Regions from separate parts of the Homo sapiens genome. Here region 1 is linked to region 2. Evidence: fine-mapped expression QTL. A gene starts in region 2. The other region holds a variant in brackets. All regions are shown on one strand. Distances are from middle to middle.

What was found. PIP is the estimated chance that this variant, and not a neighbour inherited with it, causes the effect.
Region 1: its variant is fine-mapped to the expression of GRK4 in vagina (GTEx, PIP 0.96).

What each region holds. Positions count from the first base shown.
Region 1 is chr4:2,011,917-2,027,606 of GRCh38, reverse strand. It overlaps LOC124900839, which reads left to right. Exons shown (of 4, transcript XM_047416543.1): 2 at 4,071-4,202; 3 at 9,865-9,937. Among named protein-coding and RNA genes, the nearest start is that of NELFA, 11 kb to the right of the region's middle. The variant A/G (reference allele first, on the strand shown) is at 6,954.
Region 2 is chr4:2,956,169-2,971,858 of GRCh38, reverse strand. It overlaps GRK4 (G protein-coupled receptor kinase 4), which reads right to left and starts at 8,288. Exons shown (of 16, transcript NM_182982.3): 1 at 7,737-8,288. The coding sequence starts at 7,788. NOP14 (NOP14 nucleolar protein) reads left to right here and starts at 8,453. Exons shown (of 18, transcript NM_001291978.2): 1 at 8,453-8,734; 2 at 14,119-14,253; 3 at 15,048-15,189. The coding sequence starts at 8,540. RefSeq lists silencers at 7,616-7,665, 7,836-8,265 and enhancers at 7,728-8,261, 8,262-8,795, 9,826-9,895.

The DNA.
Region 1 (15,690 bases), 940 kb after region 2:
ATTCAGGACATAGGCATGGGCAAAGATTTTATGATGAAATCGCCAAAAGCAATTGCAGCAAAAGGAAAAATTGACAAATGGGATCTAATCAAACTAAAGCACTTCTGCACAGCAAAAGAAACTATCATCAGAGCAAACAGACAATCTACAGAATGGGAGAAAAATTTTGCAATCTATCAGTCTGACGAAAGTCTAATATCCAGAATCTACAAGGAACTTAAGCAAATTTACAAGAAAAAAAAAACCCATTAAAAAGTGGGCAAAGGACATGAACAGACAATTCTCAAAAGAAGACATACACGCAGCCAACAAACATGAAAAAAACTCAACATCACTGATCATCAGAGAAATGCAAATCAAAACCACAATGAGATACCATTTCATGCTAGTCAGAATGGCGATTATTAAAAAGTCAACAAACAACAGACGCTGGCAAGGTTGCAGAGAAATGGGAACACTTTTTACACTGTTGGTTGGAATGTAAATTAGTTCAACCATTGTGGAAGACAGTATGGCGATTCCTCAAAGATTTAGAATGGGAAATACCATTTGACCCAGCAATCCCATTACTGGGTATATACCCAAAGGAATATAAATCATTCTATTATAAAGATACATGCATGTGTATGTTCATTGCAGCACTATTCACAATAGCAAAGACATGGAATCAACCCAAATGCCCATCAATGATAGACTTGATAAAGAAAATGTGGTATATGTACACCGTGAAATACTATGCAGTCATAAAAAGGAATGAGATCATGTCATATGCAGGGATGTGGATGAAGCTGGAAGCCATTATCCTCAGCAAACTAACGCAGGAACAAAAACCAAACACCACATGTTCTCACTTATAAGTGGGAGCCAAACAATGAGAACACAGGGACATGGAAAGGGGAAAAACACACACTGGGGCCTGCTGGGGGAGGAGAGGGGGGAGAGCATCAGGAAAAATAGCTAATGCATGCTGGGCTTAATACCTAGATGATGGATTGATAGGTGCAGCAAACCATCACGGCACACATTTACTTATGTAACAAACATGCACATCCTGCACATGTACCCCAGAACCTAAAATAAAAGAAAAAGAAAAAAAGGGAAGCAGAGCATAAAAGTTTGGAAAATTTGCAGCCTGACCATGTGAAAGAAAAGAAAAACCCATTTTCTGGGGGAGGAATTAAAGCAAGCCTGCTGCAAAAATTTGCATAAGAGGAGCCGAATGTTAATAGTCAAGAAAATAGAGAATATGTCTCCAAAGCATTTAGAGATACTTATGACAGCCCCTCCCATCACAGGTCTGGAGGCCTAGAAGGGAAAAATGGTTTTGTCGGCCATGCCCGGGGCCCCACTGCTCTGTGCAACCTCAGGACACAGCACCCTGCGTCCCAGCCACTCCAGCCCCAGCTGTGGCTAAAATGGGCCAAGATACATCTCAGGCTGCTGCTCCAGAGAGTGCAAGCCAGAAGCCACCAATGTTTCCATGTGGTGTTAAACCTGCAGGTGTATAGAGGGCAAGAGTTGAGGCCTGGGAGCCTCCACCTAGATATCAGGGGATGTACAGAAACACCTGGATGTCCAGGCAGAAGTCTGCTGCAGGGGCAGAGCCCTCATGCAGAACCTCTACTAGAGCAGTGTGGAGGTGAAATGTGGGGTTGGAGTCCCCACACAGAGTTCCCACTGTGGCACTGCCTAGTGGAGCTGTGAGAAGAAGGTCACCAACCTCCAGACCCCAGAATGGTAGATCCACTGACAGCTTCCACTGTGCACCTGAAAATACTGCAGGCACTCAACACCAGCCTGTGAAAGCAGCTGTGGGGGCTGTACCCTGCAGAGTCACAGAGGCAGAACTGCCCAAGGCCTTGGGAGTCCACCCCTTGCATCAGCATGCCCTGGGTGTGGGACATGGAGTCAAAAGAGATTATTTTGGAGCTTTAAGATGTAATGACTGCCCTGCTAGATTTCAGACTTGCATGGGGCCTTAGCCCCTTTGTTTGGCCAATTTCTCCCTTTTGGAACAGGAGTATTTACCCAATGCCTGTACCCCCATTGTATCTTGTAAGTAATTAGTTGCTTTTTATTTTACAGGCTCATAGGTGGAAGGAACTTGCCTTGTCTCAGATGAGACTTTGGACTTGGACTTTTGTGTTAAGACTTTGGGGGACTGTTGGGAAGGCATGATTGTGTTTTGAAGTGTGAGGAGGATGTGGGATTTGGGGGGGCCCGGGGCAGAATGATATGGGTTTGTCACAGGATCCTTGAGGTGTCACTTCACCAGCTGGAAACCTCTGTGGCCAGTGGTGCCTTTTCTTGAGTTTTGCTCAGGCCCACTGGGCTCATTCTGCCCACTTGGCCTGGCAGACTGTGCTTGGCTCATCCTACCAGCTTGGATCCCAGGCCTGCCAAGGGTGAGCCAGGCAAAGAGCGGTGAGGGGTGCATGAGTGAGCAAGCACAGGGTCTGGCCACTACGCAAGCCAGGCACACCAGCTGTGGGTGGGAATAGGAGTTTTAATTTTTCTCTTTTTCCTGTAATACTTCTTTTCTATCACTCTGGCCAACTGCCTCCCACTGGGAAATACCTCTTTTGTCCTTGTTGGGTGTAGAGGCCACTCTAAGGCCTAACTGGACACCATGCTGCCACTGTTTATCCTGCTTGCCCTCCCAATCACCCTGATCCAGGGTGGGTGGTAACAGAATGCTATAGTAAATATTTCAAAAATTACAGCATCAGGGAACCATCTTCATGGTTGCTGGGTTTGTCATCAACATCCCCAGGACAGAGAGTTCCATCTTCTGGCCTATCTGGAAAATCTCACAGCCATCTCCCCAGACTTCCTAACCAACCACAGTGATCCCAAAGTACCCAGACCCCTACTTGTTAGGTGGAACTCTCCTCCACTTAATGGATTTCACCTGAACCTCCATCTCCCTACCCCTGTACCGCACTCCCCACCACTGTCACTTGGACCCAGAAAGCTGGCTATCTATGTCTCCGGTGTGCTAACGATTCTCTTTTGCATTCACTGTTGTGTTGTTAACGACACAAAAGCAGAAGCTTCCCTGCAATGTTCTCACACAACTTGTTGCCAAATTCTCAAGGCTGCAGTGAAGTAAATCGGATCCCACTTGTGAGTGAGGAAATTATAGATGGTGCCTTCTCCAAGATCAGAGCATATAGGGGAAAAAACAACTGTCTAATCTGGGAAGGTGGGAGTACCACCCTGTCCTGGAAAACAAAGGTTGTTCAACCACCCCCATTGGAGCAGGGAAGGAATATCTCTATAGACCCAACTTGGCAGGAAAGGATACACATCACGCCCCACAGGGCCTCTATTTGTGTCCCAACTGGGTTCGTTTTTGTTTGTGGCCACAAGTGGGAAGAATCCCACCCCGTAACCACTCCCAGCACCCAGCTCTCAGCTCCCCAGGGAGCCCACCTGTTCTTTTAGAAGTAGCTTTCCCTTACATATCAAAATCTTGGAACAGGAGTGAATGTATGTTGACCACCCTTGCCCCTCCAGGGGCCGCGTCTATAACCCCATAAGACCTAAGAACATCAGAAGATAATGAGCAATAGGATTAATTCTGGGAGGAATCAGGGTAGTAATAGGACAATCTTAGCCCCCTGATGTGACTTTGCCTACCACGAGTCAACCCTGAAGAATTCGACTCAAACCCTAGAATCATTAGCCACCAGCACAGGTCAGGCATTAAAAGGGAATACAAGAATCCCTAGACTGTATGGCAAATATAATCCTTGATAACAGACTAGTGTTGGATTATTTAACGAGCTGAACAAGGTGGAGTCTGTACGGTTATTAACAAAACCTGCTGCACCTATATTAACAACTCTGGACATAATAATGTTAACATTCAAAAGATTTATGAGCAAGCTCCCTGGTTACATAGACATAACCAGAGCACAGACCCAGCTAATCTGGTCAACTGTCAGAAATGCCCTCCCAAGTCTCACCTGGTTTTTACCCCACCTGGGACCTTTGGTAGGTATATCATTACTACTAATTTGTGGCCCTTGCTTGTCTAACCACTTAGTAAAGTTTGTGTCTTCCAGATTGCAACACTTCTACATCAAGAAAATGTGGCAATAAGGCTGCCAAACCCTCCTGTCTTCTGAACCGAATCCTTGTAGATTCTGGATATCGCACCTTCATAGGAATATTCTGAGAATATTTTCTCCTATTCGGTAAGCTGTCTGTTTACTCTGTGATAGTTTCTTTTGCTGTGCGTACACTCTTCAGTGTCACTAGGTCCCACTTGTCAATTTGTTGTTGTTGTTGTTGCAATTGCTTTTGAGGACTTAAGTAATAAATTCTTTCCCAAGGCTGATGTCCAGAATGGTGTTTCCTAGGTTTTCTTCTAGGATTCTTATAGTTTGTGGTCTTCCATTTAAATCTTTAATCCATCTTTAGTTTTTGTATAAGGTGAAAGGTAGGGGTTCAGTTTTATTCTTCTGCATATAGTTAGCCAGTTATCCCAGCACCATTTATTGAATAGGGAGTCCTTACCCCATTGCTTATTTTTGTTACCTTTGTCAAAGATCAGGCCTTCCTTGGCCTCCCAAAGCACTGGGACTACGCGTGTGAGCCACTGTGCCCAGCCCAGTATGGCCATTGTAACAATATTGATTATTCCAATCCATGAACATAGGATATTTTTTCCATTTGTTTGTGTCATCTGTGACTTCTTTCAGCAGTGTTTTGTAACTTTCCTTATCAATATCTTTCACCTCCCTGGTTAGACGTATTCCTAGGTATTTTATTTTTGTGTGTGGCTATTGTAAACGGGATAGCATTCTTGATTTGGCTCTCCGTTTGGATGCTATTGGTTTACACAAATGCCGCTGACTGGCCGGGCGTGGTGGCTCACACCTGTAATCCCAGCACTTTGGGAGGCTGAGGCAGGCAGATCACGAGGTCAAGAGATTGAGACCATCCTGGCCAACATGGTGAAACCATGTCTCTACTAAAAAACGAAAATTAGCTGGGCGTGGTGGCATGCACCTCTAGTCCCAGCTACTTGGGAGGCTGGGGCAGGAGAATCATTTGAGCCCAGATTGTGCCACTGCACTCCAGCCTGGTGACAGAGCAAGACTCTGTCTCAAAAAAGAAAAGAAAAGAAATACTGCTGACTTTTGAATGTTGATTTTGTATCTTGAAACTTTACTGCAGTCATTACAGTTCAGGAGACTTTTGGTGGAGTTTTAGGGTTTTCTAGGTATAGAATGATAGCATCAGCGAAGAGAGATTGAAGGGGGCCAGCCCCTTCACACCTGTGGGTATTTCTCGTCAGGTGGGACGAGGGACTGAGAAAAGAAATAAGACACAGAGACAAACTACAGAGAAAGAACAGTGGGCTAAGGGGACCGGCGCTCAGCATACGGAGGACCCACAGCGGCACCAGCCTCTGAGTTCCCTCAGTATTTATTGATCATTATTTTTACTATTTTAGCGAGGGGAGTGTAGCAGGGCAACAGGTGGGGAGATGGTCAGCAGGGAAACGTAAGCAAAGGAATCTGTATCACGAATAAGTTCAAGGAAAGGTACTGTGCCTGGATGTGCACGTAGGCTGGATTTATGTTTCTCTTTACCCAAACATCTCAGTGTAGCAAAGAGTAACACAGCAGTGTTGCTGCCAGCATATCTCGCCTCCAGCCACAGGGCGGTTTTCTCCTATCTCAGAACAGAACGAATGGGAATCGTCAGCTTTCCACCGAGACATTCCATTCCCAGGGACGAGCAGGAGGCAGAAGCCTTCCTCTTATCTCAACTGCAAAGAGGCCTCCCTCTTTCACTCCTCCTCCTCAGCACAGACCCTTTACTGGTGTCGGGCTGGGGGATGGTAAGGTCTTTCCTTTCCCACGAGGCCATATCTCAGGCTGTCTCAGTTGGGGGAAACCTTGGACAATTCCCAGGCTTTCTTGGGCAGAGGTTCCTGCGGCTTTCCGCAGTGCATTGTGTCCCTGGTTAATCGAGAATGGAGGATGGCGATGACTTTTACTAAGCATATGCCGTGCAAACATATTGTTAACAAGGCACAGCCCGCACAGCCCTAAATCCATTGAACTTTGATTCAATACAGCACATGTTTCTGTGAGCACAGGGTTGGGACTAAAGTTACAGGTTAACAGCATCTCAAAGCAGAAACAATTTTTCTTAGTACAGATCAAAATGGAGTTCCTTATATCTTCCTTTTCTACAAAGACACAGTAACAATCCGATCTCTCTTTCTTTACCCCACAGAGATAGTTTGACTTTTTTTCCTATATGCATGCTTTTTATTTCTTTCTCTTGCCTGATTGCTATGGCTTGGACTTCCAAAAGGGTAAATTTTTAATATATAAATTATTCTTCAATAAAGCTGTTATTTAAAAAATAAGCCAGGACAGTCATGGTGGCTCAAGCCTGTAAACCCAGAACTTTGGGAGACCGAGGCAGGTGGATTACTCGAGCCCAGGAGTTCGAGACCAGCTTGTCCAACATGGTGAAACCCCATCTCTACTAAAAATACAAAAATTAGCCAGGCATGGTCACACTCGCCTGTAATCCCAGCTACTAGGGAGGCTGAGACAGAGAATCGCTTGAACCTGGGAGGCGGAGGATGTAATGAGCTGAGATCATGCCACTGCACTCCAGCCTGGGTGACAGAGTGAGACTCCATCTCAAGAAAAATAAATAAAGGAAGGAAGGAAGGAAGGAGAAAGAGAAATTATGGAAAGAAAAAGAAAAAAGAAAGAAGAAAGAAAGAAAGAAAGAAAGAAAGAAAGAAAGAAAGAAAGAAAGAAAGAAAGAAAGAAAGAAAGAAAGGAAAGAAAGAAAGAAAAGAAAAGAAAAGAAAGAGGGAAAGAAAGAAAGAAAGAGACCGGGTGCGGTGGCTCACGCCAGTAATCCCAATACTTTAGGAGGCCAAGGCGGGCGGATCATGAGGTCAGGAGATC[A/G]AGACCATCCTGGCTAACACGCTGAAACCCCGTCTCTACTAAAAATACAAAAAATTAGCCGGGCATGGTGGCGGGCGCCTGTAGTCCCAGCTACTCAGGAGGCTGAGGCAGGAGAATGCCGTGAATCCGGGAGGCGGAGTAGGCAGTGAGCCGAGATGGCACCACTGCACTCCATCCTGGGCAACAGAACAAGACTCTAAAAACAAAACAAAAGAAAGAAAGAGAGAGAGAGAGAGAGAGAAAGGAAGGAAGGAGAAAGAAAGATATAAAGAGAAAGAGGGAAGAAAGGAAGAAAGGGAGAGGGAGGGAGGAAGGAAGGAAAGAAGAAAGAAAAGAAAGAAAGAAAAAGAAAGAAGAAAGGAAGGAGAAAGAAAAAGAAAAAGAAGAGGGTAGGAAGGAAGGAAGGGAGGGAGGTAGGGAGGGAGGGAGAGAGGGAAGGAGGAAGGAAGGAAGGAAGGAAAGAAGGAAGGAGAGAGAGAAGGGGCTTGCCTGTTTCTGAGATGATTTACCTTTAAGAGGCAGTCGAGCCTTAGGGGTTTCTGGCCAAACAGAAGAGAAAGGACATGAATTCAAACAATGGGCATCCCAGCCTGAGCAACACAAAAAGACCCCATCTGTACAAAAATTAAAATGAAAATTAATTTTTGAAAGATAGCCAGGAATGCTGGTGTGGGCCTGGGCTCCAGCTACTGGAAAGGCTGAGCGGGGAAGACCACCTGAGCTCAGGAGTTCAAGAACAGCCTGGGCAACATAAGAAGACCCTGCCTCTAAAAAAATAAATAAAAGAGGGATGGGGCAGTGGAGGAGCTTGCAGCAAGAGTGCAATAAAGGTCATAAAGTTCACATTGCAATTGGAGGGATCTGAAAGAGTTTTACGTTTTCCCATTTTTATTTGATAAAGGAATCCTTTAGGAATTAATTTTTCTTTTCTTTTCTTTTTTTTTTTTTTTTGAGATGGAGTCTCCCTCTGTCACCCAGGCTGGAGTGCGGTGGCGCCATCTCGGCTCACTGCAAGCTCTGCCTCCCAGGTTCACGCCATTCTCCTGCCTCAGCCTCCGGAGTAGCTGGGACTACAGGCGCCCGCCACCACGCCCAGCTAATTTTTTGTATTTTTAGTAGAGACGGGGTTTCACCGTGTTAGCCAGGATGGTCTCAATCTCCTGGCCTCATGACCCGCCCCACCTCGGCCTCCCAAAGTGCTGGGATTACAGGCGTGAGCCACCGCGCCCGGCCCCGAAGTGGTCTTTGAGGGAAGGGCACCATTCGGGAAGGGGAGCACTGAGGTCACAGCGGGAGCACGCCCACCCGGGAGCAGAAACCCCTCCTGAGGGCAGGACCCCAGCCACCACACACCCTGGCAAGAGCTCGCAACCTGGGGTTGCAAACCCTCCACTGAAGGCAGTGCTGACCTGAGGGTCTCCCTAGGAGGACAGGCGTGAGCAGAGAATCTGTCTGAAGACAAGGCAAAACTGAAGGTGCAGATGAGGACTTAGTTTGTTAGATAAGAACAGTGGATTCACGAGATCTGAACTCACTGGCCCTTGGTGCCCTTGAGACAGGGACATTCAGACCTGTGTTAGTTCATCCTCTTCCCAAGGAGCTCTTCACAACAGAAGGTGACAAGGACAGACGGACACACAGAATTGTTGTTAGGAGCAAAGTAGTTTCCACAAGGATCAAAATCTTCATCTCATCAGATAATCAAAGCACACGTAAGAAGGCTTTCTCAATCCTGGAACACAAGGAGCTTTCACAAAAGAAAACCAGAGGGTCACGGGGAGAGTGCTGGTTCCAGTCGCAGGTCTCAGGCCATCCTGGGGAGGCCGTCTCAGCCGAATCCCATGGGAACATTTAGGACCATTCACTGCCAACAACTCAACAGTGACTCCCAGAAAACTTGTTTATTTTTAGAGACAGGGTCTTGCTCTGTTGCCCGGGCTAGATTGCAGTGGTGCAACCACAGCTCACTGCAGCCTCAACCTCCTGGGCTCAAGCAATCCTCCCCCATCAACCTCCCAAGTAGCTGGGACTACAGGTGTGCTCCACCACACCCGGCTAATTTTTTAGTGTTTTGTAGAGACAGAGTCTTGCTGTGTTGCCAAGGCTGGTCTCTAACTCCTGGGCTCACGCAATCCTCCCACCTCAGCCTCCCAAAGTGCGCCTGGCCTCATAGGATTTTAGAATCTGGGCTCAGATGGTTGATGGTCTGTCTTTCAGTGCAAGGACTCATTGGGATAGGACAGAGCTTATGGCCCAACAGTGCAGGACAGAGAAACACAGCCAGATGAAGGTTCTGATGAGTGAGCTGGTTCCCAGATTGGTAAACTATGTGCCAGGATACATTGTTCTGCAAGATTTTCCTGAAGCAAACAGTGATTGACTGATTTAGTTTTATCTTCCTGGAAAGAATTTTCTGGAAATAATCATTAAATCAGGTTGACACAGGTGATCTCAGCTCTTGATCCCAAGAGTTAAGTGGACACAGGTGGTCTCAATTCTCATCCCGTCCTCAATATTCTGCCAAGGCCCCTCTGTCTTTTCCATCTCTTTTTTTTTTTCATTTTCTTTCTTTCTTTTTTTTTTTTTTTTTTTGAGACGGAGTCTCACGCTTGGTGCCCAGGCTGGAGTGCAATGGCACGATCTCAGCTCACGGCAACCTCCACCTCCCAGGTTCAAGCGATTCTCCTGCCTCAGCCTCCTGTGTAGCTGGGATTACAGGCATGAGCCACCACGCCCAGTTAATTTTTGTATTTTTAGTAGAGACAGGGTTTCACCATGTTGGCCAGGATGGTCTTGATCTCTTGACCTCATGATCCACCTGCCTCGGCCTCCCAAAGTGCTGGGATTACAGGCATGAGCCACTGTGCCCAGCCTTCCACCTCATTTTCTCTGTCATCATTTTTTTCTCCAGCTTCCAGGAGCCGTCGTAGCAGCCGATTAGGACTGGCTGCTGGTGTGGTGATGACCTAGAGGGCTTCTCCCAGGTAAGGTGAGAAGAGGGATCCACTCACTGCAAGAGGCTGCATAAACTTAACCCAACACTGTAAAGGCTCTCCTCATGAACAAAGCATTAGTAGTCTAGATAAAATACTAACAAGCGAAATCTAGCAACGTGTAAAAAAGAATAACATAGTCCAAGTTGGGCTTATTCTAGGAAAGTAAGGTTTATGTAATTTGAAAGGCAATCAATGTAATTCATCACATTTACAAAATAAAGGTGAAAAAATCATACAATCATCTCAGTATGCACAACAAAACATTTTATAAGAACATTTGATAAAATTAAATGTTGGTCATGATTTTTAAAAACCTGTAGCAAATTAGGAATAGAAGGGAACTTCTTTAATTTGATCTAGGGCACCTTAAAAAATAAGCAAACATGGCCGGGCATGGTGGCTCACACCTGTAATCCCAGCACTTTGGGAGGCTGAGGCGGGCGGATCACGAGGTGAGGAGATCGAGACCATGCTGGCTAACACGGTGAAACCCCATCTCTAATAAAAATACAAAAAATTAGCCGGGCGTGGTGGCGGGCGACTTGTAGTCCCAGATACTCAGGAGGCTGAGGCAGGAGAACGGCCAGAACCCGGGAGGCGGAGCTTGCAGTGAGCCAAGATCACACTACTGCACTCCAGCCTGGGCGACAGAGTGAGAATCCGTCTCAAAAAAATAAGAATAAAAATAAGCAAACATATCACTTAATGGACTCATGTAACAGTGAAAAGTATGGCGGGATAGCTAACAGGCCAACCCTCCCACTGATTAAAGGCTTTGGAGCATAAACCAAAGCAAGCGGATTTTGGAGGGAAGTAAAAACTTGGAGGAAAGGACCAGCCTGGTGAATTTGTTTGTTTGTTTGAGACAAAGTCTTGCTCTGTTGCCCAGGCTGGAGTGCAATGGTGTGATCTCAGCTCACTGCGACCTCTGCCTCCCGGATTCAAGCAATGCTCCTGCCTCAGCCTCCTGAGTAGCTGGGATTACAGGTGCCCACCACTGTGCCCGGCTAATTTTTGTATTTTTAGTAGAGATGGGGTTTTGCCATGTTGGCCAGGCTGGTTTTGAACTCCTGACCTCAGGTGATCCACCTGCCTCGGCCTTCCAAAGTGTTGGGATCACAGGCATGAGCCACCACAGCTGACTGATCCTGGTGAGTTTTAAGGCCATTTTCAAAGCTTAAGCCTGAGGACAGCTAGGGAGCCCCGGCATGGTGCAAGCAGATAACCCTAACAGAAAACTGACTGTCTTTCTGGATTTACAAACCAGAAAACAGAGCCTGGACCCACACAATTTCCAGGAAGTCAGGAGGGAGTCCTAAAACGGAAAGAGCCAGAGAAGTCTCTGATAGATCATGCAGGCAAAGGTAGCCTCTAGCAGCTTGCAGGCAGGGCCGCACTGAGATTTGAAAGGCCTCTAAACCTACTCTACAGAAAGCCCAGAGGCAGACACAAAGTCAACAGGGGAGAGGTCACTCCTGCCTTTACACAGCTGCTGAGAATAGATGAAAAGTCTTGCCAACTTATTTAAAAGGCTAGGCTGGGCACGGTGGCTCACACCTGTAATCCCAGCACTTTGGGAGGCTGAGGCAGGCGGATCACAAGGTCAGGAGATCAAGACCATCCTGGCTAACACGGTGAAACCCCGTCTCTACTTAAAAAAAAAAAAAAAAATTAGCCGGGCGTCGTGGCGGGTTCCTGTAGTCCCAGCTACTCAGGACACTGAGGCAGGAGAATGGCGTGAACCCAGGAGGTGGAGCTTGCAGTGAGCGGAGATCGTGCCACTGCACTCCAGCCTGGGCGACAGAGCAAGACTCCGTCTCAAATAAATAAATAAAAGGCTAGAAAGCCATAATTCCCAATCTAGATAAAAATGAATATATACAAATAAAATTATAGGACAATTCACTCATAATCAGAGGTGCAAATTTTAAAGAAATTCACAGCGAATTAAGAGAAACAGGGTTGTGATTAGGGTGACGTATGTGAAGCACTTGCTTTGGGCAAAATATTCAGGAGGTTCCAAAATAGTTATTAAGATAAATATTTTTCAATTAGTAGCTCCTATAAAAGGAAAATAATTTAAAAGAAAAAATATTTTAAAAGGTAAATATTTTAATACACTACCTTAAAGAGTCAAAACTCATGCAAAAAAACTATGGTGAACAAAATATAAAATTTTAAATGAAGACAGCATCAGTATCACTGATTGGTTTTCTTGCCTCAGCTCCAATATGGCTTGACATGGCACTGTTACTATCTGTCTTTGTTTAAAATTTCAGTATGTTGTTTATCATTGATTTTTTCTGGCATTGATTTTGAGTTTTTAAAATATTGCATTCAAATACCATTTGTTGTGATGGCTGAGTGTTCTGACCCCTGTTAAGCCTCCCTCAGCTCTCTCCCCTTGCCCGGGCCCTGGCCCTGAAAGATAATTCATCTTGACAAGTAAGGCTCCTCTGAGGAGCACAGGGACGGTTGAACATCAGAGATCCTATCATGACCTTGGGCACCACATTCATAGCCTAAAGGAAGGGCAGCGTGAGATTTTCTCAACAGATGCGGAAAAGCTCATTTTTCTTAAAGAGAAACACTGTTAGGATGAAAACTCTGGAACATAAAGGAAACAAGAAAACTTCCTTAAGTGGACAAAGGTGATCCACTAATAACTTAGATTATTTCATGGATAAAATTTAGACATGGGCCAGGTGTGGAGGCTCAGCACTTTGGGAGGCAGAGGCGGGAGGCAGAGGCAGGAGGATCCCTTGAGCCCAAGAGTTTGAGACTAGCCTGGGCAATATAGCAAGACCCTGCCTTGTGAAAAAAAAATTGGACATATACCTTTACGACTGAAAGCAAGACAACAGGATTCTTACTGCCCTGCTAATGTTCAACAGGACTGGAATCTTTGGCCAATACCAAAAAAATAATAAAGGAAAAGTATAAATATACATGGAAGACACAGAACTGTCATTGTCTGTAAATGAAATATTCAGAATAACCAACTAAATCAACCCACTATTAGAATAAATATAGGAGTCCATAAAGGTTGTTGGATGTATGTCCAACTTAAAAAATAGTATTTCTCGTATTCATAATAACCAACTGGAAAATAGAATACAGGATATCATTCATAAGAGCATGAAATACACTAAGGCATCTGAGTTAAGCTAATGAAAATGATTAGGAACTGTATGAGGCCTGGCGCGGTGGTGCACACCTGTTATCCCAGCTCTTTGGCAGGCCAAGGTGGGAGGATTGCTTGAGGCCAAGAGTTTGAGACGTCATCTCTACATAGTGAGACTTCATCTCTACAAAAATTTCAAAAGCTAGCTGGGCATGGTGGCACGCGCCTGTAGTCTCAGCTATGAGGCTGCAGTGAGCCAAGATTGTACGGCTGCACTCCAGCCTAGGCAAGAGTGAGACGCTATCTCTAAAAAAAATAAGTAAGAAAGAACTGGCCAGGCGTGGTGGCTCATTCCTATAATCTCAGCACTTTGGGAGGCCAAGGCGGGGAGATCACTCAAGGCCAGGAGTTGGAGACCAGCCTGGCCAACATGGCAAAACCCCATCTCTACTAAACAAACAAACAAACCACAAAAATAGGCTGGGTGTGGTGGCTCACACCTGGATCCCAACAGTTTGGGAGGCCGAGGTGGGCGGATCTGAGATCAGGAGTTCGAGACCAGCCTGGCCAACATGGTGAAATCCCGTCTCTACCGAAAATACAAAAATTAGCCAGGCTTGGTGTTGCATGCCTGTAATCCCAGCTACTCAGGAGGCTGAGCGATGAGAATCACTTGAACCCGGGAGGCGGAGGCTACTAGGGAAGGTGAGAGGCAGGAGAATTGCTTGACCCCGGGAGGCGGAGGTTGCAGCGAGCCGAGATCGCGCCACTGCACCCCAGCCTCACCAACAGAGCGAGACTCTATATCAAAAAAGAGAAAAACACAAAAATTAGCTGGGCATGGTAGCATATGCCTGTAGTCCCAGCTACTTGAAAGGCTGAGGCATGAGAATCGCTTGAGCTTGGGAGGCGGAGGCTGCAGTGAGCTGAGATCGCACCACTGCATTCCAGCCTGGGCAACAGAGTAAGACCCTCTCTTAAAAAAAAAAAAAACTGTATGGAGAAAAATAGTAACGTCTACTGAAGATCATAAAGAAAGAAAAATGAAAGCTTGTCTGTGTATCATATACTATATAAAGATGTCAGTTCTCTCTAAATTAATCTACAAACCCAATGGAAAGCCAATCAAAATACCACTAGGGTTTTTTTTTAGAAATTCAGTAAAGTTGTAAAATTTATTGCTTTAAAGTAAAAATAAGGACTTTTTTTTTCCCTTTGGTCGCCCAGGCTGGAGTGCAATGGCACGATCTCAACTCACTGCAACCTTCGCCTCCCGGGTTCAAGCAATTCCCCTGCCTCAGCCTCCCAAGTAGCTGGGATTACAGGCGCCTGCCACCACGTCCAGCTAATTTTTGTATTTTTAGTAGAGACGGGGTTTTACCATGTTGGCCAGGCTGGTCTCGATTTTGAGATGGAGTTTCCCTCTTGTTGCCCAGGCTGGAGTGCAATGGCACGATCTCCGCTAACTACAACCTCCGCCTCCTGGTTTCAAGCGATTCTCCTGCCTCAGCCTCCTGGGTAGCTGGAATTACAAGCGCCTGCCACCACGCCCAGCTAATTTTTTGTATTTTTAGTAGAGATGGGGTTTCACCATGTTGGCCAGGCTGGTCTCGAACTCCTGACCTCAGGTGACCCGCCTGCCTCAGCCTCTCAAAGTGCTGGGATTATAGATGTGAGCCACCATGCCCAGCCAAAATAAGGACTCTTTATGTTGCAGAGTCAGGCAAATAAATTAGAAAAAAAGATAAAACTGCCTTCACAAATGGCATGATTGTCTTTGCAGAAAACTAATACAATGTATGAAAAAACTACTGGAACAAATAAATGCGTTTAGCCAGGCTGCAGGATACAAAATCAACACACAAAAATCTGTTGTATTTCTATATACTGGCGACAAACACTGATAAATTAAAAATTTTAAACAACACCCTTTACAACCACATCAAGGTTATGCAATACTTGGAGGCAATTCTGAAAAGATGTGCAAGACCCTTACATTGAACACTACAAAATGGGGCTGAGAAAATTTATTTTTTAATTTATTTTTAATTTTTTAGAGACAGAGTCCCACCATGTGGCTCAGGCTGGTCTTGAACTCCTGAGCTCAAGTGATCCTCCCACCTCAACCTCCTAAGTAGCTGGGACTACAGGCGCACCACCAGCCCAGCTTTTTATATTTGTTGTAGAGATGGGGTTTCGCCACGTTACTGAGGCTGGTTTCCAACTCCTGGGCTCAAGCAATCCACCCTCCTCGGCCTCCCAAAGTGCTGGGATTACATAGCCATGAGCCTAGCTGAGAGAATTTAAAGACCCAAATAAACAGAGAGAAATACTATGTTCACTAGACAGAAGTTACCAGTTCTCCCTCAACTGACCTACAGATTCAACACAATTCCACTCAAAATGCCAGAAGCCTTTTTTTTTTTTTGTAGAAATTGACAAACGATTCTAAAATTTATATGGAAATGCAGGCTGGGCACTGTGGCTCACCTGTAATCCCAGCACTTTGGAAGGCTGAGGTGGGTGGATCACTTGCGGTCAGGAGTTCTAGACCAGCCTGGCCAACAGGGTGAAACCCCGTCTCTACTGAAAATACAAAAATTAGCCAGGTTTGGTG
Region 2 (15,690 bases):
CACGTGAAGATGAAGACAGATCAGAATGATGCACCTCCAAGCCAGGGGACACCAGAGACTGCCAGCGAGCCAGCAGAGGCTGGGAGAGAGGCCTGCGACAGATTCTTCCTCACAGCCCACAGAAGGAACCAGCTCCACTCACAACTTGATTTTGCACTCCGGCCTCCAAGACTGTGAGACAATAAATGTCTGTTGCGGGAGACATCAGGTTTGTATCACTTTGTTACACAGCCCTAGCAAACTCACACAATACTGTCCTCCCCGCTTTCTTCTTCCTGCTATTCCTGCCAAGTTTCTTTTCCTTCCATTTTTGGGCCACTTCTGCTTCAGATCCAGGCATACCTACCGTGTTCATTTCCTCATCCTTATTCATTCATTCATCCATCAGGTATTTATTGAGAACCTACTATAGGCCACAACATTATGCAAATGACCTCAGAGAAGCATATAAAGGGCTTCATGAGGTGCTGACAGTCCTCTGGCCAATGAAGCAAGCAAAGCTGGGCAAAAGGTGCTGAAACAAGCATGAAGAATCCTACAGATTATTTTGTTTGAGGTAAAGGTAGCAAAGCACAAAAATGTAATATGAGACTATTAATTTGTACTTTGGAAGTAATTTGCATATCAATTAACCACATATTTACTGGAGACTGAATATTGTTACCAAATTAGTCTTTATGACCATGACATAAATGTTAATAAGCAACTTTGCACACATATGTACAAAATACCGTAAATGTTTCTGCTAAAAAGTAACTTAAGAAAGCCCTAATTCTAGAGTTTTTTGAGGAGCTTTAATAAAGCCAAAATGATTTTGACTGTATCATTTTTCTTTAAGGTAACTATTGCCTAATTTGGGTCAAAATATAAAGCTCAAGAACATTCTTTTGGCCAGGCGCGGTGGCTCACACCTGTAATCCCAGCACTTTGGGAGGCCGAGGCGGGCAGATCACAAGGTCAGGAGATCGAGACCATCCTGGCTAACACAGTGAAACTCCATCTCTACTAAAAATGCAAAAAAATTAGCCAGGCATGGCGGCGTGTGCCTGTAGTCCCAGCTGCTGGGGAGGCTGAGACAGGAGAATGGCGTGAACCTGGGAGGCAGAGCTTGCAGTGAGCTGAGATCACGCCACTGCACTCCAGCCTGGGCGACAGAGCGAGACTGACCCCCCCAAAAAAAAAGAACATTTTTTTTTTTTTTTGAGATGGAGTCTCACCGTGTCGCCAGGTTGGAGTGCAGTGGCACGATCTCGGCTCACTGCAACCTCCACCTCCCGGGTTCAAGTGATTCTCCCGCCTCAGCCTCCCGAGTAGCTCGGACTACAGGTGCATGCCACCATGCCTGGCTAATTTTTGTATTTTTAGTAGAGACGGGGTTTCACCATGTTGGCCAGGATTGTCTCGATACCTGGACCTCGTGATCCGCCCGCCTTGGCCTCCCAAAGTGCTGGGATTACAGGCATGAGCCACCGTGCCTGGCCAAGAATATTATTTTATAGTATCAGTGGTATAGATATTTTTGGTCCTAAAGTAGCATAAAGCCAATAACCCAATATTTGATTCACTGACCAAGAAATAAAAATCCTGATTTAAAGCCATTATAATCTAGATAGACAAAGTAGAAAATATAAGAAAACCAAACTGACCTGGTTGCTAATAACCTGGCTGATTGATAGCATCCCAAATTAGCTGTACCATAATGATAGTAACAGACGGTAGACATTATTGCTTAGGGAAAATGGGGTAACCTTTTGTTGGCAGAGAAATAATTTGGCTGACTACTACATAGATTACTTCAAATATCTGACAGATAAGAAATACTAAGTTTATAACTCTTTCTAGAAAACTTGATCTTACATGCTGTTGAAAATTCTAATAGGCCGGGTGTAGTGGTTCACCCTGTAATCCCAGCACTTTGGGAGGCTGAAGTGGGAGGGTAGGATCACTTGAGTCCAGGGGTTCCAGACTAGCCTGGGCAACATAGTGAGACCCCATCTCCACAAAAACCACAAAATTATCTGTGCATGGCAGCGCATGCCTGTGGTCCCAGCCACTTGGGAGTCTGAGACAGGAGGACTGCTTGGCCCCAGAGTTCAAGGCTTTGAGGCTTCAGTAGCTATGATTTCCCCACCTGCACTCCAGCGGGGTAACAGAGTGAGACCCTGTCTTTAAAAAAAAAAAAGGCTGGGCACCATGGCTCACGCCTGTAAATCCTAGCACTTTGGGAGGCCGAGGTGGGCGGATCACCTGAGGTTGGGAGTTCGAGACCAGCCTGACCAACATGGAGAAACCCCATCTTTACTAAAAATACAAAATTAGCCGGGCGTGGTAGTGCATGCCTGTAATCCCAGCTACTTGGGAGGCTGAGGCAGGAGAATCGCTTGAACCCAGGAGGCGGAGGTTGCGGTGAGCCGAGATTGTGCCATTGCACTCCAGCCTGGGCAACAAGAGCGAAACTCTCTTTAAAAAAAAAAAAAAAGAAAAGAAAGAAAGAAAGAAAAGAAAAGAAAAGAAAATTTGGCCAGGCACAGTGGCTCACACCTGGAATCCCAACAATTTGGAAGGGCAAGGCGGGTGGATCATTTGAGGTCAGGAGTTCAAGACTAGAAAGAGCAGTCTTTTAATTTCCTCAGCTAGGGAATTTCAAAGGCAACTTTGAGGATTCTCTGCAATCGCTCCTCTATCCAGTGTCTTCTACCTTCAGCATCTCTCTGATCTCCTCTTTCCTCTCCGTTCTCCTAGCTACCCCTCTGGCCCTAGCGCATATGGCCTATGCCTGCTTACTATGTCATGTAAACAGGCCCTTGCAATGGCCCTTTGTTGGTTTCTTCTGCAGCCCTTCCCTTACTTCTCCCCCACGGTGTATGTCTTGGTGGGACTGTCATTCCAGCTGCCTGGTTCCCCCTTAGCCACGGATGCAGGAAGGGGGCCAGAGCCAAGCCAGCCAATTGGTGCTCTCTCCCAGGATAAGAATCATGAAATTCATGAGGCAAAATCAGATAAATAAAATAAAAAGATACCTGCTCTGTCACAGGAGTGACCGTGGAGACCTGATTATCAATCAGCAGCCCCCTGTCTAAAACTATCCAAAACTGCAACTACCAATGCCACCTGGGCGCTTCCTACCCCCATCCCTGCTGTAGTCTCCCGTGGCACTCACTGCTTGCTAATATGCCACACGTCTTATTTATGTGCCTCAAGACTGCCTCCCCTATAAGAATGTGGTCTCCAGAATGGCAGGAATTTCTGAACATGTTGTTTATTGCTATAGGAACAGTACCTGGAACATTCTGAGCACACATCTGCCAAATGAATGCATGAATGAATGAGTCCCACATCCTGTTCTTTCCAGACTGATTGTTAGGTTCTTACTTTGATTCTTTGAGCTACCCAATATCTTCTCCATAAATTTCCTATTTGCTTAAGTTAGCAAAAGTTCTAGGGAGGAAGCCTCAGCAAGAGACAGCATTAATAATAACAGGTATATTAACCATGCTGCAGGTGTTAAAGAAACTGCTCAATAACACCGCAGCCTGAAATCAGAACAGAATTGCAATATATAAGACCAAAACCCACATTAAATGCACGTATTACGTATTCCTCTCTGCATTTGTTTTCAATTTCTCCAAGAGATAAGACGGTGTTAAAGTCTCCTCAGAAGTATGATGTGAAATAATTTAAGCTTATTTAAAGCATAAAAGTTATAAGTTGCTTAACAAATAATATTATACAGGGAAAAAATCCTAAATTAAAAAAAAAAACAAAACAGGCCGGGCACAGTGGCTCACGCCTGTAATCCCAGTACTTTGGGAGGCTGAGGCGGGTGGATCACCTGTGATCAGGAGTTCGAGACCAGCCTGACCAACATGGAGAAACCCCCGTCTCTACTAAAAATACAAAATTAGCCAGGCATAATGGTGCATGCCTGTAATCCCAGCTACTCGGGAGACTGAGGCAGGAGAATTTCTTGAACCCGGGAGGCAGAGGTTGCAGTGAGCCGAGATCACGATTGCGCCATTGCACTCCAGCCTGGGCAACAAGAGCAAAACGACGCCTCAAAAAAAAATTGTTTTTATATTTATTAACAATATGATCTATGAACCTATGAATTATATCAAGGAAAAAAAAATAAAACAAAACACCAACAAAAACCCAATACGGGCCGGGTGCAGTGGCTCACGCCTGTAATCCCAGCACTTTGGGAGGCTGAGGTGGGCGAATCACTTGAGGTCAGGAGTTCAAGACTAGCCTGGCCAACATGGCAAAACCTTGTCTCTACTAAAAATACAAAAAATTAGCCGGGAATGGTGGGTGCCTGTAGTCCCAGCTACTTGGGAGGCTGAGGCAGGAGAATCACTTGAACCCAGGCGGCAGAGGTTGCAGTGTGCTGAGATCATACCACTGCACTCCAGCCTGGGTGACAGAGTGAGACTCTGTCTCAAAACAAAACGAAACAAAATAAGACCAAACCAATATGATCATTTCACGCTTCCTTCATGTCCCTGGCAGAGTGACACACAAACACTTTCAGTGCAGCATCATCTGCCAACATTCCTGAAAGGAAAAGGCTCTAACAATCTTCTGTTTAGACCATCTTAGTCTGTTCAAGCTGCTCTAACAAAATACTATAAACTGAGTAGCTTATAAATTGCAGAAATGTATTTCTCACAGTTCTGGAAGCTAAAAAGTCCAAGATCAAGACAGATTTGGTGTCTGGTGAGGGCCCACTTTCTGATTCATAGCTGGCATCTTCTTTCTGTGTCCATGGTAGAAGGAGTGAGGGGTGTCTCTCTAGTTTCTTTTATAAAGGCACTAATACCATTCACGAGGGTTCCACTCTCATGACCCAATCACCTCCCAAATGCCCCACCTCCTAATTCCATCCCCTTCGTAGTGAAGATTTCAACATAAGAATTTTGGGGGAACACAAATATTCAGACCATAGCAGGGACCAGAGAGGGAGGGGGGATTGAGACTGACTGATTCTATTTGAAATAAATCCAGGAAATGACCGGACTCACTAATAATATTAAATCAACATTGCGCTTCTCAGGACCAGAATATAACTCTTGTGCTACGTTCATTCATTTCAAAGGTTAATTTTCTAGTATATGAGCCAGTGAAGCTAAACAAGGAGCTGTCCATGAAGTTATGTGTCCAAGAAGACACCTCCTGGTACTTCCTGGGAGATACTTTAAAGTAACAAACACAGTCATCAACTTGGGAAAAAGCCCTAAATTATAACCAATACTCAGCATGTATCCATGTATATCTAATATTATATATTCAACTTCTCTAACCATTAATCAAGCTATACATAATGATGCTTTCTGACCACAGGAGCAAATACTCTCACTCAATGGGGACAGGCCTCATAATCACACTACTGTGGAGTTAATATGAGATATTTCAGGGAAAAAATTAAAACTTTCTTTTTTTTTTTTTTCGAGACGGAGTCTCGCTCTGTCACCCAGGCTGGAGTGCCGTGGCGCGATCTCGGCTCACTGCAAGCTCTGCCTCCAGGGTTCACGCCATTCTCCTGCCTCAGCCTCCCATGTAGCTGGGACTACAGGCGCCCGCCACCACGCCCGGCTAATTTTTGTATTTTTAGTAGAGACGGGGTTTCACCATGTTAGCCAGGATGGTCTCAATCTCCTGACCTTGTGATCCGCCCGCCTCGGCCTCCAAAAGTGCTGGGATTACAGCTGTGAGCCACCGTGCCCGGCCAAAACTTTCATTTTTCAAACTATCACTGTGGTCTTAGGTTTTGTGACAGAATCTGGTTTTATGTTATTTAGCATTTATAGAGCACTTGTATTTATCTCATTATCTAATCTCTGCAGCATTATAAGGAAGGCGGCTTGGTATAGTTCCTTTTTGTAAATTACATGCAGATAGGAAGGTAGTGTAAAAAGAAAACTGGCTTAGCTTCAATCTGACTTCCACTAAGGATGATTATTTTCCATGACCTATTTGGAGTTCACAGTCAGGGATAAGAGGCACAGTCAAATGCTCCACTGAAAATGGCTGCTGAGAACGCATACTGCTCTGGGACTCCCTGATTATCTTAAGGGAAAAAGATCCCATTCTCTTCCCACCCATTCTCAGTTCTTCTATTCAAAATAGTGTGAGTTGGTGCACAAAAATACTGAGAAGATGAAGTCTTTGTTTTAGACTTTTTTAAAGAGATGGTCTTGCTGTGTTTTGCCCAGGCTGGACTCTCCTGGGCCCAAGTGAGCCTTCCACCTCAGCTTCCAGAGTAGCTGGGACTACAAGCGTGGCCGCCACCTTCGGCTCCAGACTGTCCTTTAAATATGCATCGCCGGCTGCTGTGGCATCTTCAGTCGGCATTTACACTGTCCTGGAGCACAGTCCGAGCAGAGCTGCTCCATCACGCAAGGAAATAGAGGAAATCAGCAATTCCGTAAGAGTGACGGGGTGTGAAGAACTACCGTGGCTAGCACAGGGACTTGAGGTCCGAGGCTCTGTCGCCAGCTCTCTTGAGACGCAGGCAAGGGAGACATGAGGTCCGAGACAGAGGATTGCACAGAGGATTGTGGGGGTCTCCCGCTGAAGGGCTGGACCAACTGATGCTTTTGTGGCGGGATGCAGAGGACTAGAGAGACCAGCATGGGTGAAAACAGGAGGATATTTATGTTAAGGTACGCACCAGCTCAGTGGATTCACATCCAAAAAGCTGAGCCTTGAACAAAGACTAAGCAGGATTTTTATAAGCAAACTTACAGAAGCAAAACAAAGGCAGTTAATCATATAATGACAGGTCACATAATCTATAGCATAACTGATGACTTGGCATAACTTGTGGCCTTGCATAGCTGGTGGCCTTGTAGCTGCGTTGAAAGAAAAAACCAAGAACTGGCTAAACACAGATATTTGTCCTCTTTTTTTTTTTTCTTCACCCCTGCTCTGGAAGGGGGGTGTCTGGAGCCTATTCCTTTGGATTCGACTTCTCAAACAGAACAGCGTTATCTTATAACTGTCCTTAAAGTGAGCTTGCTAAGCAAAAGAAAACTTGTTCTTCTTTTCTTTTTAACCCTTGCCTTGCCACATTCTGGGCCTTGGCTTTTTCTTTTCTTGGAGTGAATGAATGCAGTACTTATTACTATTTTTAAATTTCTGCCTCACTTTAATAATGATAAAAGGCTGAATTTTTGCCAACTTGTCCATCTGTGACCACGTCGTGCTAAAGCACACTTGACACACCATAGAGCCTCAGATCAAACCTCAAAACCAAGCAGCTATGTTAAAAATAACATTGCCCTACAATCATTATCGGAAGGTTCTCGCCCAGAGTAGTTCCCAGGCTGCTATTCTTTGTCCCCCTTAAGACCATAAAGACGCCGTTCTTTTTTGGTGGGACAGGTTGTCCAACACAAGCAGGACACTGCCTGCCGCATCCTGAAGCAACACTGTCACCGAGGTCACACCGAGAGGACAGGACAAGGACACAGGGCAAGACTAAGAAGAGCAAAGCGCAGACTTCTCTCATCTGGGCCAGGAGATGGGGACTGGGACCTGGCCCGGGCAGCCTGACCACACTGCACAGACCCCGGCTCCGGCTCCGTGCAGATCTGGGTTCCCCCAGTGGGAGGTGTCGGGGCTCTCCAGGGAAATCGGGGTTCTCCGGGGATGTCGGGTTCCTTCAGGGGGGCCAGGGTTCCCCGGGATTCGGGGTTCTCTGGGGGGGGGGTCGGGGGCGCCTGCCGCGCACCCACCTTGACGCGCTTTCAGCAGCAGCGAGTTGGCCACGATGTTCTCGAGCTCCATGTCCTGGCGCCGCCGCCGCCGGCGGATTCTGCGAGACCGAGGAGACTGAGGAGGCGGAACAGGAGGAGACGCCGCCGCCCCCGTGCATAGCTCGCCGGGCACCACCCTCTCCTCGAGCTCCGGACACGATCCCGGGAGGCTGCTCCGCCGCCACCACTGCCACCAAGGGCGCCGCCGCCGCCGCCTCCGCAGGCCCTCACCAGCAGGGGAGCGGTCGGGGCGAGGGGAGGGGGCAGCCCGACCGCGGCGGGTCCCAGCTGTCACCGCTGCCGCGCTATCGCCCCGGTTCTTCTTGGCCCCATCGCCCTCGCCTCGCGCGCGCAACTCCCTCCTCAGTGCCCTGCCCCCGGGCAGCCCCGAGTCAATGCCGTGGCTCACTTCGGACAGGGGCTCACTGGCAGGGGCGCCCGCCGCGGCCGGCGACCCGCTCCCGGGCGGGCTCGGCGCTAACGGCTTAGCTGAAGAGGGAGCGCCCCTCGCCGCCGCGGCCGGGGCACTACAGCTCCCAGAAGGCCCTGCGCCAAGAGTACACGGCGGGCCGCGGCGCGTGGCCTGCTGGGAGTTGTAGTCGCTGAGCCTATCGGCGAGTAAGCCGAGCCTGCGGGCGCGGTGTTTACTTCTCGCGAGTCGGAGGTGCTGCGCTGTTCTCGCGAGACGAGGAAGCGGTTCCGCGGCCCGGCACGTGTCTTAGGGTAGCGCGCGCCTGTCTCTCTTCGGGTCTCGGGCCCTTGGGCGCAGCGGGGCGCGCGCCATGGCGAAGGCGAAGAAGGTCGGGGCGCGAAGGAAGGCCTCCGGGGCGCCGGCGGGAGCGCGAGGGGGCCCGGCGAAGGCCAACTCCAATCCGTTCGAGGTGAAAGTTAACAGGCAGAAGTTCCAGATCCTGGGCCGGAAGACGCGCCACGACGTGGGACTGCCCGGGGTGTCTCGCGCACGGGCCCTCAGGAAGGTAAGCGGGGGGCGCACGGGGAGCCGGAAGGCAGGATCTGGACCCCACGCTGCTCTCGGCCGGCTGCGTCCTTCTCGGTGCGTCGGTTTCCTCGTTGAGCGGCACAGGCCGTGACAGGCACACGGCACTGACTTGATAGTCCGAAAGCCTCTGCTGTTCTCTGAGCTGGAGTGACCTGGAAACTCTCGCCGTCTTGGAGACCCTGCACTCGTGTTATTTCGGCGACTCCTCCAACCGGGTCAGGCCGAGTCAGTCACTTCGGGCGGCGCCCTGGACCAAGCTGCTTGTTAACCCTTCCGCGTTTACTTTGAGCTCTGCAGGTTTGGGGACGGTGGATAGGGGCTGTGTAGGATGCTGCGTTTGATGTTTCATCGGCTCTCTCCCGAAGCGCGTAACCTTGTTCCTTGGGAAGTAACTCTATGGAAACTCATTGCTTCCTAGTTTTTTTAACTTTTTTTTTTTTAAATTTTCACTGAGGAACATACATTAGCAGGTTGGTGAAAAAATTAAGGCACAGAAAGGACAAGTGCATTTCCTAAGGTCACGCACCTGGTAAGGGCTGGGCATGCATTCACATTTCAATATCTACAAAGCCTTCTTGCTACCCCGAGCGCTTCTGTTTGACCTCGCTTCTAGGTTCGGGGAGATAAAGGTAAATAAGACTTGCCCTTGCCTTCATGAGCTCCTGATCTCTGTTCATCACAGTGTGCAAGCTGGATGGTCTTTGAATCAAAACACATATTATCCTTACTGCGCGAAGACGACAGCCTGTATAATGAATAGGCAAGATAGACTTACAGCTGACTTCGATAGGAGTCCCTCATTACACACCCCCGGGCCGGGGTGGGAGAATAAGGTAGTGTGGTTCCCTAGAAGAGACACATTTGTCTTCACCACTGAAGCCTCAGTTTTCTCATTTCAAAAGTAGAGATGATAGTATACATCCTACCCCTCGTGGTGGTTTGTGAGAATTAAGTAAGATAGCACATAGAGCACACAGCAAGTGTTCTCTAAATACTGTTATTCTTAACCTTCTTGGCTTGTCGTTCGAGTCCCGCACAGTCTGGCTGTTGTCCTTGCTTCGCCTCTTGCAACTCAGTTTGTCCAAAAGGTCTGCCTTACCTCCGAAAGTCTCTAAAGGGCCAGCTCAGGTTCACCACCCAAGCTATGTAACCCAAATAGGACAGGTTGCTCAAACTTCTGGTATTGAGCAGATCCACCTCCCTGCCCTGTGCTGAAGGCCTGGGACGGGGACGGGAATTGCTGCTCCTTTTTGGATCTCCAATGCTTGGCCCTTGGAAGAAACACAAATATTTGAAGAAATCAAAGATGGAACCTGAGTGCCTTAGGAGATCCCGGTCAGGAAAAAGTGTAATAGTTAGGAAAGTCCAAAAATTCTTCTAGAGGGAGTTACAGTCAAGTTTTGCAAGGGGAGTGAGCTGTTCATGGGCCCAGGGTGGGCAGAGGACACACATGCAAAGGCACATTGTCCCGGTATGGTGAAGTGTGGCACTCACAGCTGTCTGAGGGACAGCAGGTCGTCCAGTTGACTCCAAGCTTGATAACGCGTGTAGGGGCCGTGAGGCCGGCGCAGGAGGCCTGGGTCTTTTCATGTGGGTTAGTCCCTTAGAAGTAAACAGGCTGCCTCAGTTGGCTTCTCCCCTCTGGTCAGTTGTAGCACTCTGAGGCACTCAGTCTGGCAGGAAGAGGGCAGCCCCCAGGTGCCAGTCTCAGGACATTGCTTTATAGCTGTGCCTCAGTTTCCTTATTTCTGAAATAATTTATAAAATAAGTTATATTAATGTAGTTCTTAAATCAGTAACTATATTAATATAGTTACTATATATTAATATACTAACTATATTATTAATATAGTTACTATATATTAATATACTAACAATATTAATATATTAATATATTATTATAATATTAGCATATTAATATATTATTGTAATAGCATATTAATATATTATTATATTAGTATATTAATATATTATTATAATATTAATATATTATTAAAATATTAATATATTATTATAATATTAATATAGTATTAATATAATATTGATGTAGTATTAATATAATATTGATATAATATTAATATAATAATATTGATATAATATTAAAATAATATCGATATAATATTAATATAATATTGATATAATATTAATATAATAATATTGATATAATATTAAAATAATATCGATATAATATTAATATAATATTGATATAATAATATAATAATAATGTAATTATAATATTAATATATTGATAATGTGATTATAATATTAATATATTGATAATGTGATTATAATATTAATATATTAATATTAATGTGATTATAATATTAATATATTAATATTAATGTGATTATAATATTAATATATTAATATTAATGTGATTATAATATTAATATATTAATATTAATGTGATTATAATATTAATATAATATTAATATAATAATATATAGTAACTATATTAATAATATAGTTACTGGTCCCTTACAGTTGGTCAGGCCTTGTGCCACACGGTTTACATTTAATCCTCACCGTTATGAGGGGGAAGTACTGTTATCCCCATTTTATGCCGTAAATTCCATATGATGTCACAACATCTATATAGTTTAAGAAAGAAAGAGAATCACAATAATGTAGAATAACTCATATTACGTATTTATAGCCTAAGGGCTGTTCTTCACTAAGATTTACCCATAGAATCATATTCCAGATAATGAGAACTAATATTTTTAGAGGCAGAGATGGCTGATGCCTGCCCCATCTACCCCCTTCCTGCTAGAAGCCAGTGACACTCCCTCCCTCTGCAGGGACAGACCTCAGAAGTCTTCTCGGTGTATGCTGGGTTTGGTGGCTCACACCTGTGATCCTAGCACTTTGGGAGGCCGAGGCAGGCAGATTGCCTGAGCTCAGGAGTTCGAAACCAGCCTGGGCAACACGGTGAAACCCCATCTCTACTAAAAATACAAAAAAATTAGCTGGGCGTGGCAGCGTGCGCCTGTAATCCCAGCTACTGGGGAGGCTGAGGCAGGAGAATTGCTTGAACCCGGCAGGTGGAGGTTGTAGTGAGCTGAGATTGTGCCACTGCACTCCAGCCTGGGCGACAGAGCGAGATTCCATCTTTAAAAAAAAAAAAAAAGGTCTCAGTGTAGCATGCAAGCAGCCTCTGTCCGTACAGAGTTCATCGAGCAGTACAGGCTAGCACATGTAATGTGCTCCCATCTGATTGCCAGCTAGACCTTGTGATTTAAATAGTGAGATGTTGTTTTAAAATTTTGCTCTGCGGATAAAGAATGGTGAAGGTTCAGAGAGCTTAACCTGATTCAGTACTGTGTGTGGTTCACTATCAGCATCCAGCAGGATCTCGCTCTGGAATGGCTCGTAACAGAAGCGGAGAGAACAGAGCAATGGCGATGGAGCCCTCTGGTCTATCTGGGGACACTCGCTGTCTTTAGACTCTGGTTCAGGAAATTGTACCCAAGGTGGTTTGTTTGTGTTTTTTGTTTTTTTTTGTTTTTGAGACAGAGTCTTTGTCTGTCGCCCAGGCTGGAGTGCAGTGGCACAATCTCAGCTCACTGCAAGCTCCACTTCCCGGGTTCACGCCATTCTCCTGCCTCAGCCTCCTGAGTAGCTGGGACTACAGGCGCCCGCCACCACACCCGGCTAATTTTTTTGTATTTTTAGTAGAGACGGGGTTTCACCATGTTACCCAGGATGGTCTTGATCTTCTAACCTCGTGATCCGCCCGCCTTGGCCTCCCAGAGTGCTGGAATTACAGGCGTGAGCCACCGCGCCCGGCCCCAAAGGTGTTTTTAACAAACATTGTTTAGCACTGCCACGGTAGGAAGTTACTAGAAGTTACTAGGGATTAATAACTCAGCGTGTGTCAGTTGAAACAAATTGGTTCTTGAAATATTCTTGAAGAAAATGACGAAAATTGCCTTGGCAGTATTTATTGAACTAATGGATGGTTTCCTACTCTTCAGGTAGCAGAGGGGTTTTTCATGCATTTTAAGTGTAATAATAGCACTTTCACATTTCAAAGTGAGATAAGAGAAATGGTTTTTTCACATCCTTTTCTCCTGTCCACATGATTAATATTTCGGTTGACCTCTCCAGATGGAATGTGCTCTAAATGGAAAGGAGGGCCAGGTCGTGCTTCTGTCCCTGCTGGAGCATCTTCTGCTCTTGCCCAGCTGCTTCTTAACCCCTTCCACTCTCTTTTCCTCCTCTTCCAGCTCCTGGTTTTGACCTTAAATCTGGGTTTCTTAGCCTTTAAGTTCATCTCCGACCCTGGGGAAGTGACCTATGTCTGGAGCAAAATCTGACCTGTCCCCTCCTGAAACAGAACTTGGAACCAGAGTGGCAGTGACCAAGTCACCACACGCTCCCTCCTGCCACACGCACGCATTCTTTCAAAGTGACTTCACAAATTAGAGGAATCCCTGAGGAAGGCAAGGAACACTTAAGTCGGGTTAGATGAGAGGTTTCAAATGTCTGCCGAGGCACCGATTTGTGGTGGGTTTGTAAAACCACTGAATTGGATCATTCCAAGGGCCTTCCATGGCATCAAGATTTTGCCTTGATGCCATTTCCTTTCGGAATTGCTGTGTAAACACCAGTGTAATGGCAGTTCCTTAGCAAATAGAAGAAGTTCCGCAGCAAGAAAGAGTTTGCAATGTGGCCATCTCAGGTTGCAGAGGCCACTCGTTCCTCACCCATCTCTGTCCTCTCACAGCTTTCTTTAGGGAATTCAACCTCCAGGACAGCCAACTTTGAATACTGTTAAACTTGGTCTTTTTTTGTTGCTGCTGGGAAAATAACCAAATTATTTGATACTTGCTAACCGTATTTAAAATATTGCTCCTCTTGGTGTTATAAAGGTGAAGCCCCTAAACTGTGACCTCGCTAACTTGTTTATTGCCTTGTGTCTAGTATGAACTCACAACTACACATTTCTTAGGAGTACCTTTGATGGGAAATAGTACCCTCCTCCATGACGGAAGGAGTCTAAACCCATTTCCACTTTTCCAAATGTGCACGTTTTAAACCTTAAGGCAGCTGTTACAGCCGAGGGAGCCATTCATGCCTTGAGCTTGACTAGTGTGTTCTTTTTTACCCTTCCTTTTGGCACCGGTAGACTCTAAAGAAGAAAAGAAAGTGATTGCCCCATTATCCTTGAAAGTTGTTTTGCTCTTCTCAAAATTCTGTGATTAGTAGAGAAAGCCTATCGTGCATGAAAGCAGATTGGGTGTGAACTTTGACATCACTGTGCATAGCCCTGAACTTTAAAGTATGCACTGTTCTGATGTCCCCTGTAGTGGAAATCACAAGAATTTTTTGTGAGATTGTTTCTGACCTGTTTTCCAGCGTACACAGACTTTACTAAAAGAGTACAAAGAAAGGGATAAATCCAATGTATTCAGAGATAAACGCTTCGGAGAATACAACAGCAACATGAGCCCCGAGGAGAAGATGATGAAGAGGTTTGCTCTGGAACAGCAGGTATGGAAAGAAACTGGAGGAGGGTTTTTGCTGTACATTTCACAGGGAAGTCAAGGCCAAGGAGAAGGCTGACTCTGCATGTTTTGCATGTTCCTGGGCACTCGGAAGGTCCAGGGGATAGCCCTCGAATCCTGTGCCTTATCTGGCTAGGCCAAAGGAGAAGCAACCTCTTCTGCAAATGTTAGCTGAATGGATAAATGCCTTAACTCTACTACACGGCAGCAGTGTGCACAGGAGTTCTCAGCTGAGCAGCATTGCTGGAGTGGAAACTGGCCCCTGGGCTTATTTAAGAATTCCCCTCCATGAGGCCGGGCGCGGTGGCTCATGCCTGTAATCCCAGCACTTTGGGAGGCTGAGGTGGGTGGATCATGAGGTCAGGAGATCGAGACCATCCTGGCCAACGTGATGAAACCCCGTCTCTACTAAAAATACAAAAATTAGCCAGGCGTGGTGGCGCATGCCTATAATCCCAGCTACTCAGGAGGCTGAGGCAGGAGAATCACTTGAACCAGGGAGTCAGAGGTTGCAGTGAGCCCAGATCACTCTACCGCACTCCAGCCTGGGCAACAGAGCGAGACTCTGTCTGAAGGAAAAAAAAGAATTACCCTCCATGAGTTTCATTTCTGTCTGAATCATGAATCATTGCTTAGTTGACCCAAAATACTCTTTAAGGCTGCTTAGGATTCGTTGTCATATTTCAAATATAATGGAAATATATATATCTACCTTATCTTTTTTTTTTTGCTGTGAAATGGAAGTGGTAATTTTAGGAAACTTTTTTTCTCTTCTGTCAGCGACATCATGAGAAAAAAAGCATCTACAATCTAAATGAAGATGAAGAATTGACTCATTATGGCCAGTCTTTGGCAGACATCGAGAAGCATAATGACATTGTGGACAGTGACAGCGATGCTGAGGATCGAGGAACGTTGTCTGGTGAGGCTGGGGTGCTGTGCACGGGCCTGTGGGCGTGGAGTCAGGGAGAGTCTGTTCATTGTTAGACCTTCTGCTCTTCTTAGAGACTAGAGAAAGTTATTGCATGAAAGTTTTACTGATCATTAACCTCTCTACAAATTTCACAAGTGACAGTTTTTATGTATTTTTGTTTTTTTTTTAAGTTTTCAGAACTTTAAGATGGTGTGTAGATAGATGCTTTTATGGGCCAAGAAAGCATGTTGATATCCATTATTTTATTTGAACCTCAAAATAGCTCGTTCTACCCATGAGCTCAGAGAAATAAGGTGTTTTGCCCGATGCCAGAGTCAGAGCTGTGGGGAGAACCCACCTCACTGACTCCAGGTGCCTCACTGAATGCACTACTTTGCTCCCCCTACTTTATCAATTCCAGCCTAATATTTGTACCAGTGGCATTGATGTAGTTCCTTTAGCTTTTACCTACTGTGGAATTATAGCAGTTTGAGGAAAATCATATTGAGC